Linked DNA regions of Homo sapiens: region 1 is linked to region 2. The links come from fine-mapping of genetic effects on gene expression. Tissue or cell type: nucleus accumbens. Region 2 holds a variant in brackets; the other region holds the start of a gene. All regions are shown on one strand. Distances are between the middles of the regions.

Region 1 (2,768 bases), 47 kb after region 2:
GTCTGGTCTCGAACTGCTGGAAGCAAGCCATCCTCCCACCACAGCCTCTCAAAGTGCTGGGATCACAGGTGTGAGCCACCGCGCCCAATCTTATTCCACTCATTTTACCTTCAGCCTCTCCGGAGGCTCCTCTCCCCCTATATACACAACATGCTCAAGTCCCTTTACTCTCACCATTCCTATTTACCATCTTTTGGGGGTAAAACCATGGTACCTAATTACAACTCTTACTTAACCAAATTATAATTGCGGCTCAGGTGGTTTAAAAAGTGCCCTCAGGAACTCTGCGCCTCACCTCTCCCAGCTGTGATAAAACCCCGTGAACCTCCTATCATTGCTCTTAGGTGATTCTGTAATTATTAATATTACTTGTGTATGCCTTGGTCTCCCCACCAGACCATGCGATCGTTACCATCAGTAAGCAGGGCCCTTCGTTTTCGTCTCTGTGGCGGCTCGCACTCTACCAGGGCTCCCGGGTGGGTCCCACAGATTCCTGTGCCCTAAATGCTGCCTCGCACGTTGGTACTTATGCACAGGCAATATACTCCACCTAGAACGTTAGACTTTTTTCCACCTGCCAGGCACACTCCCACTCATCAGTCAGATCTCGTTTGCACATTTCTTTATAAAGTCGTTCCTTACTCTCCCCAAGACACACGCTTTTAAGTCTCTCACATTTGGTACATATAACCATTGCAGCGCTAATTACATCCATACATGTATTTGTTTACAAATCTATCTCCCATCCTACGTTGTGTCCTAAGTGGGAGGGACAGTGCCCAGTCGTTTTGGTGTTCCCTGTGCGAAGCAGCGCCTGGCACTCAGCAGGTGCTTAATAAATGCGACTTGAGTGAATGAATGGCGACACACGTGCCCCAGGAGGTGCCCCAGGAGGTGCCGTCTCTAACTATGGGCTCTGCATGGGCGATTCCCTTCTAATACAAACGAGGGTTTGGTTTGCAGGAAGGAGGGCGGGAGGTACCGAGGCGGAGGTTTTCAGGGCTCGTGGCGGCGGGGGGCAGGGGATTTAAATTGCTGGGCGAGCCGAGGCCGACGGCCGGAGGAAGGAGGCGAGAGGGCGGGGACTCCCGCGTCCGGGCGGAAGGAGGGCGCAGGGAGGAGCTGCGGCCGTAGGGCTGCCGGTCGGGCGAGGGGTAGGGGAGGCTCCCGCCCACTCCCGGCCGGGGCCCCGCACTCACTCGTCCCCCTGCAGGAGGCTGCGCTCCGTGATGGGCCGCACGGCCGTCCTCGGGGGCTCGGCGCCCGGATCCGAGGGGCGGAAGCACAGGCTCAGCTTCTCCTCCAAGCTGCAGGCCGGGGCCGGGAAACCGTCGGCGCCCCCACCCGCCTCGGCCCCCGCCTCCGCCCCAGGCTCGGGGCTCGCGTTACAGTTCTCCTGGTCCAGGAGGCTCCGGGCCGGCTCCTGGAACTCATAGAAATCCTGCCAGTCCCCGTCCGCCGCCATCGCCGCCCGGAGCAGTCGCGCGCCCCGCCCAGGCCGGCCCAGCCCGCCCAGCCCGGCCCCGCCCCGGCCCGAAGCCCCGCCCCCGCCCGCTACCGTGCTGACAGATCCCAGGCTGTCCCAACCCTGGGTCTCCGGTGGCCTGAGTCTTCCTGGAGTTGAACGCGGTGCTACTAGAAAGCCAAGACCTTAACTGCCTTGAGTCACTTCCTATATTCTCTATCATTTAGGAATAACTTCCCTGTTAGCTTCCCTTATTAGCAACTTGGCCTAAATGTGGCTAAAATAAAGGACTTCTTTAAACTTACGACCTAATATCAGATTACGCCCCGAAAGTCGTTTTCCCCAAGGTAACCTGCTCCTTTCCTAACTTGCCAACCAGAATAACAGCCAGAGTCAATGGGAAATGTTTAGGTGGTACCGAAGTTCATTCCTCAAATATTTTACCTCTCACGTGCAAAGCACTGGCTAGATCCTGCAGAACATACAAAGATAATTATGCCAGTTAACATTTGCAAAGCACTTAGAGCAATGCCTAATAGTAGATACCCTATGTGTATGTTATAACTAATACATGGGTGCCCCATACACAGGGCTTACAATGTCGGAGTGATAAGAGTAACAAGAAATTGTTTAGACCTCATAAAAACTAAGTGTGATTGGGCGGTTCAGTTTTGCAAGATGAAAAGAGTTATGGAGATGGATGGTGGTGATGGTTCCACGACAGTGTTAATGTGCTGAATGCCACTGATCTATACACTTACAGATGGTTAAGATAGTAATTTTATGTTTATTTTACTACAATACAAAAAAATTGGAGTAGGCCAGGCGAGGTGGCTCACATCTATAATCCCAGCACTTTGGCAGGCCCAGGTGGACGGATCGCTTGAGGTCAGGAGTTCAAGACCAACCTGGCCAACATGGTAAAACCCCGTCTCTACTAAAAATACAAAATCTAGCTGTCAGGCCTCTGAGCCCAAGCCAAGCCATCGCATCCCGTGACTTGCACATATACACCCAGATGGCCTGAAGTAACTGAAGATCCACAAAAGAAGTAAAAATAGCCTTAAGGATGACATTCCACCATTGTGATTTGTTCCTGCCCCACCCTAACTGATCAATGTACTTTGTAATCTCCCCCACCCTTAAGAAGTTTCTTTGTAATTCTCCCCACCCTTGAGAATGTACTTTGTGAGATCCACCCCTGCCCGCAAAACATTGCTCTTAACTTCACCGCCTGACCCAAAACCTGTAAGAACTAATGATAATCCATCTCCCTTCGCTGACTCTCTTTTCGGACTCAGCC
Region 2 (2,768 bases):
CAGTCAGCATTGCACCTGCTATGGAGAAGGGTATTCCTTTATTAAAATCTTCCTCATTTGGATTTGCTTTCAGTTGGTTTTCAATTTGCTCACTGGCCAGAGACATTGATGGCAGTTCTTATCTGCATCACTAATCAGCTCCTGGATTTTTTTTTTTTTTTTTTCAAACAATGGTTTGAAACAACTACTGGAATATTGTCCACAATAAGCTGGAAGTTTGTTGTAGTATGCCTCAAATATAACTGACTGTATACTATAGTGGTAACTTTTCAAACAGCCCTTAGCACTTTTATACTAATTAACCCATTTGTGCATTGAGTTTTCTTTTAAAAATGCTTGTTGTGAAAGACACAGATACCCAGTATGCTTAACGTGAAAAGAAAATGTGTTCTGTTTTGTAAAGGAACTTTCAAGTATTGTTGTAAATACTTGGACAGAGGTTGCTGAACTTTAAAAAAAATTAATTTATTATTATAATGACCTAATTTATTAATCTGAAGATTAACCATTTTTTTGTCTTAGAATATCAAAAAGAAAAAGAAAAAGGTGTTCTAGCTGTTTGCATCAAAGGAAAAAAAGATTTATTATCAAGGGGCAATATTTTTATCTTTTCCAAAATAAATTTGTTAATGATACATTACAAAAATAGATTGACATCAGCCTGATTAGTATAAATTTTGTTGGTAATTAATCCATTCCTGGCATAAAAAGTCTTTATCAAAAAAAATTGTAGATGCTTGCTTTTTGTTTTTTCAATCATGGCCATATTATGAAAATACTAACAGGATATAGGACAAGGTGTAAATTTTTTTATTATTATTTTAAAGATATGATTTATCCTGAGTGCTGTATCTATTACTCTTTTACTTTGGTTCCTGTTGTGCTCTTGTAAAAGAAAAATATAATTTCCTGAAGAATAAAATAGATATATGGCACTTGGAGTGCATCATAGTTCTACAGTTTGTTTTTGTTTTCTTCAAAAAAGCTGTAAGAGAATTATCTGCAACTTGATTCTTGGCAGGAAATAAACATTTTGAGTTGAAATCACACAGTGTAACTTGCAAAAAGATTCCATCTCTGAGATCCGAAAGACTTTTAAGGTTATCAGTCCAATGAACCCCTGGTGTAACAAGAAGTCCCGTGCTTTTGTCATTAGGCGGGTCTTTCCCAAGGTATCCTTGCAAAAAGAAAAGTGTCTCCCAGAGTACAGAGAATAGCGATGCTGTTTTTAGGGAGACAAGAAACCTACCTGCTGTCAGAAACGTGCTCATAGCTGGTATCAAAATTAACTTGCTACGCACAGGAGGACTGTGGTGGGAAATCCTACAGTGGTTCGATGCTGAAGAAGAAAGACTTTACCGAGCACGATCAGGGGAAGCCTAACTGCAAAGAGACTTTTTGAGCTGACAGGAAAAAATAAATAGGTATATTTTCATACATTTTAGAAGCATCAATTTAAGAATGAGCTATAAACAGACCAATGTTGAATCTCCTTTAAAAAAATATATCCCCCTAAGGACTTTCTACTATATCATATACCCTTTAAAGCTACATTTCTTCAGTACAAGGCGTCATTTTTACAAATTCAAATTAATTTAAATTATTAATATTACTGTGTAAGTACATGTATCTGGGGAAAGGGCCAGTAAGTTCCA[A/C]ATAAGAACATTAATAAAACAAGGAAACCATCTCGAGTTTCTCATACCCCTAGAGATGATGGCTGAAATGCCAAGCAGGCATTAAACTTCAAACCGCGCCCCTGCCTTTGCAGTCATGGTGTCTCAGTTGCTGAGTGGAGTGAGGAATATGTTAGCCCTGTTTGTTTTGCTCACAGGTGTTTAAGTGGAATTGTGAAAGCCGCCTGTAGCAGGTCCTATATAGACTCTTAATTCATTCATGTCGTCTATGGGAGGGGTCTGCATGGCTGTTTTTGAAATGTCTCACAGCCCCAGAAAAAGAGCAGGACTTACTTCTGTCATTCCACAGCAGCTCAGCATACTCTAATAAACGTCCTCCTCTTCCCCTTCGTAGCATTCTGGGACTAATCAGGGTTTCATCTGCTCACATATTGTAGCGATGGGTTCTGTGTGGAATTAAGGGAAAGAATCTAGCACTGTAAGGAAAAAAAAAATACAACACAAAACTCCCAAATATAAGGCTCTCAAACATGTATTTTTACTTCTTAAAAAATTTATTAAATGCCATTGATTTGACTGGAACCAGCAAAAGTGCTCATGATATTGATGAATCCATAAGTAGCTGTATCTAGAATTCATACTTAAGAAAAACACACAGGCATGAATAAAATAGGACACAGTAATGAGAATGGGCAGTTCTGCAGTGTACACTTTCTCAAGCACCTCAGAGGACACACACTTAAAGTACAATTCTTCACAGACACATGAAGCAGAACATTTGAAAATCAAAACTTAAATACAAGATTCTAAAAGTGAATGGCAATTTAATGGTTAAAATTTGACCAGTGGTGAAACAAGCAGCAAGCTACAAAATCCATCACCACCAACAGTTTCAATGTTAGCACTAAGTATTAAACCAAAGTAATGCATATTCTGGTTTTGCTTCTTCAAGAACAGCCCGTTTATTCTGTTTCAATCTCTCTGAACAATACTGGTAGGTAATAGTTACACTGACAATTCTCACAAAAAAACAGTGTTGGTTCTTGCCATCACTGAATTTATAGTATAAATCTCCCAAGGCTTTAATCTAGTTCATCAGTGCAGTTTAGATAAGAAAGCCATAAAAACAAATGG

Which allele goes with the higher level. Alleles are on the strand shown, and positions count from the first base shown. SD is a standard deviation of normalised expression in the study named.
For the expression in nucleus accumbens of the gene that starts at base 1,491 in region 1, C is the low allele of the variant in region 2 and A is the other (moderate effect, 0.66 SD a copy in GTEx).

The links. PIP is the estimated chance that this variant, and not a neighbour inherited with it, causes the effect.
Region 1: it holds the start of FEZ2, and the variant in region 2 is fine-mapped to the expression of FEZ2 in nucleus accumbens (GTEx, PIP 0.93). The same link has a PIP of 0.9 or more in sun-exposed skin.

What each region holds. Positions count from the first base shown.
Region 1 is chr2:36,596,678-36,599,445 of GRCh38, forward strand. It overlaps FEZ2 (fasciculation and elongation protein zeta 2), which reads right to left and starts at 1,491. Exons shown (of 8, transcript NM_005102.3): 1 at 1,200-1,491. The coding sequence starts at 1,465. RefSeq lists enhancers at 632-1,559, 1,560-2,486 and silencers at 940-1,299, 1,340-1,559.
Region 2 is chr2:36,550,089-36,552,856 of GRCh38, forward strand. CRIM1 (cysteine rich transmembrane BMP regulator 1) reads left to right here. Exons shown (of 17, transcript NM_016441.3): 17 at 1-1,047. FEZ2 (fasciculation and elongation protein zeta 2) reads right to left here. Exons shown (of 8, transcript NM_005102.3): 8 at 2,170-2,768. Among named protein-coding and RNA genes, the nearest start is that of FEZ2, 47 kb to the right of the region's middle. The variant A/C (reference allele first, on the strand shown) is at 1,656.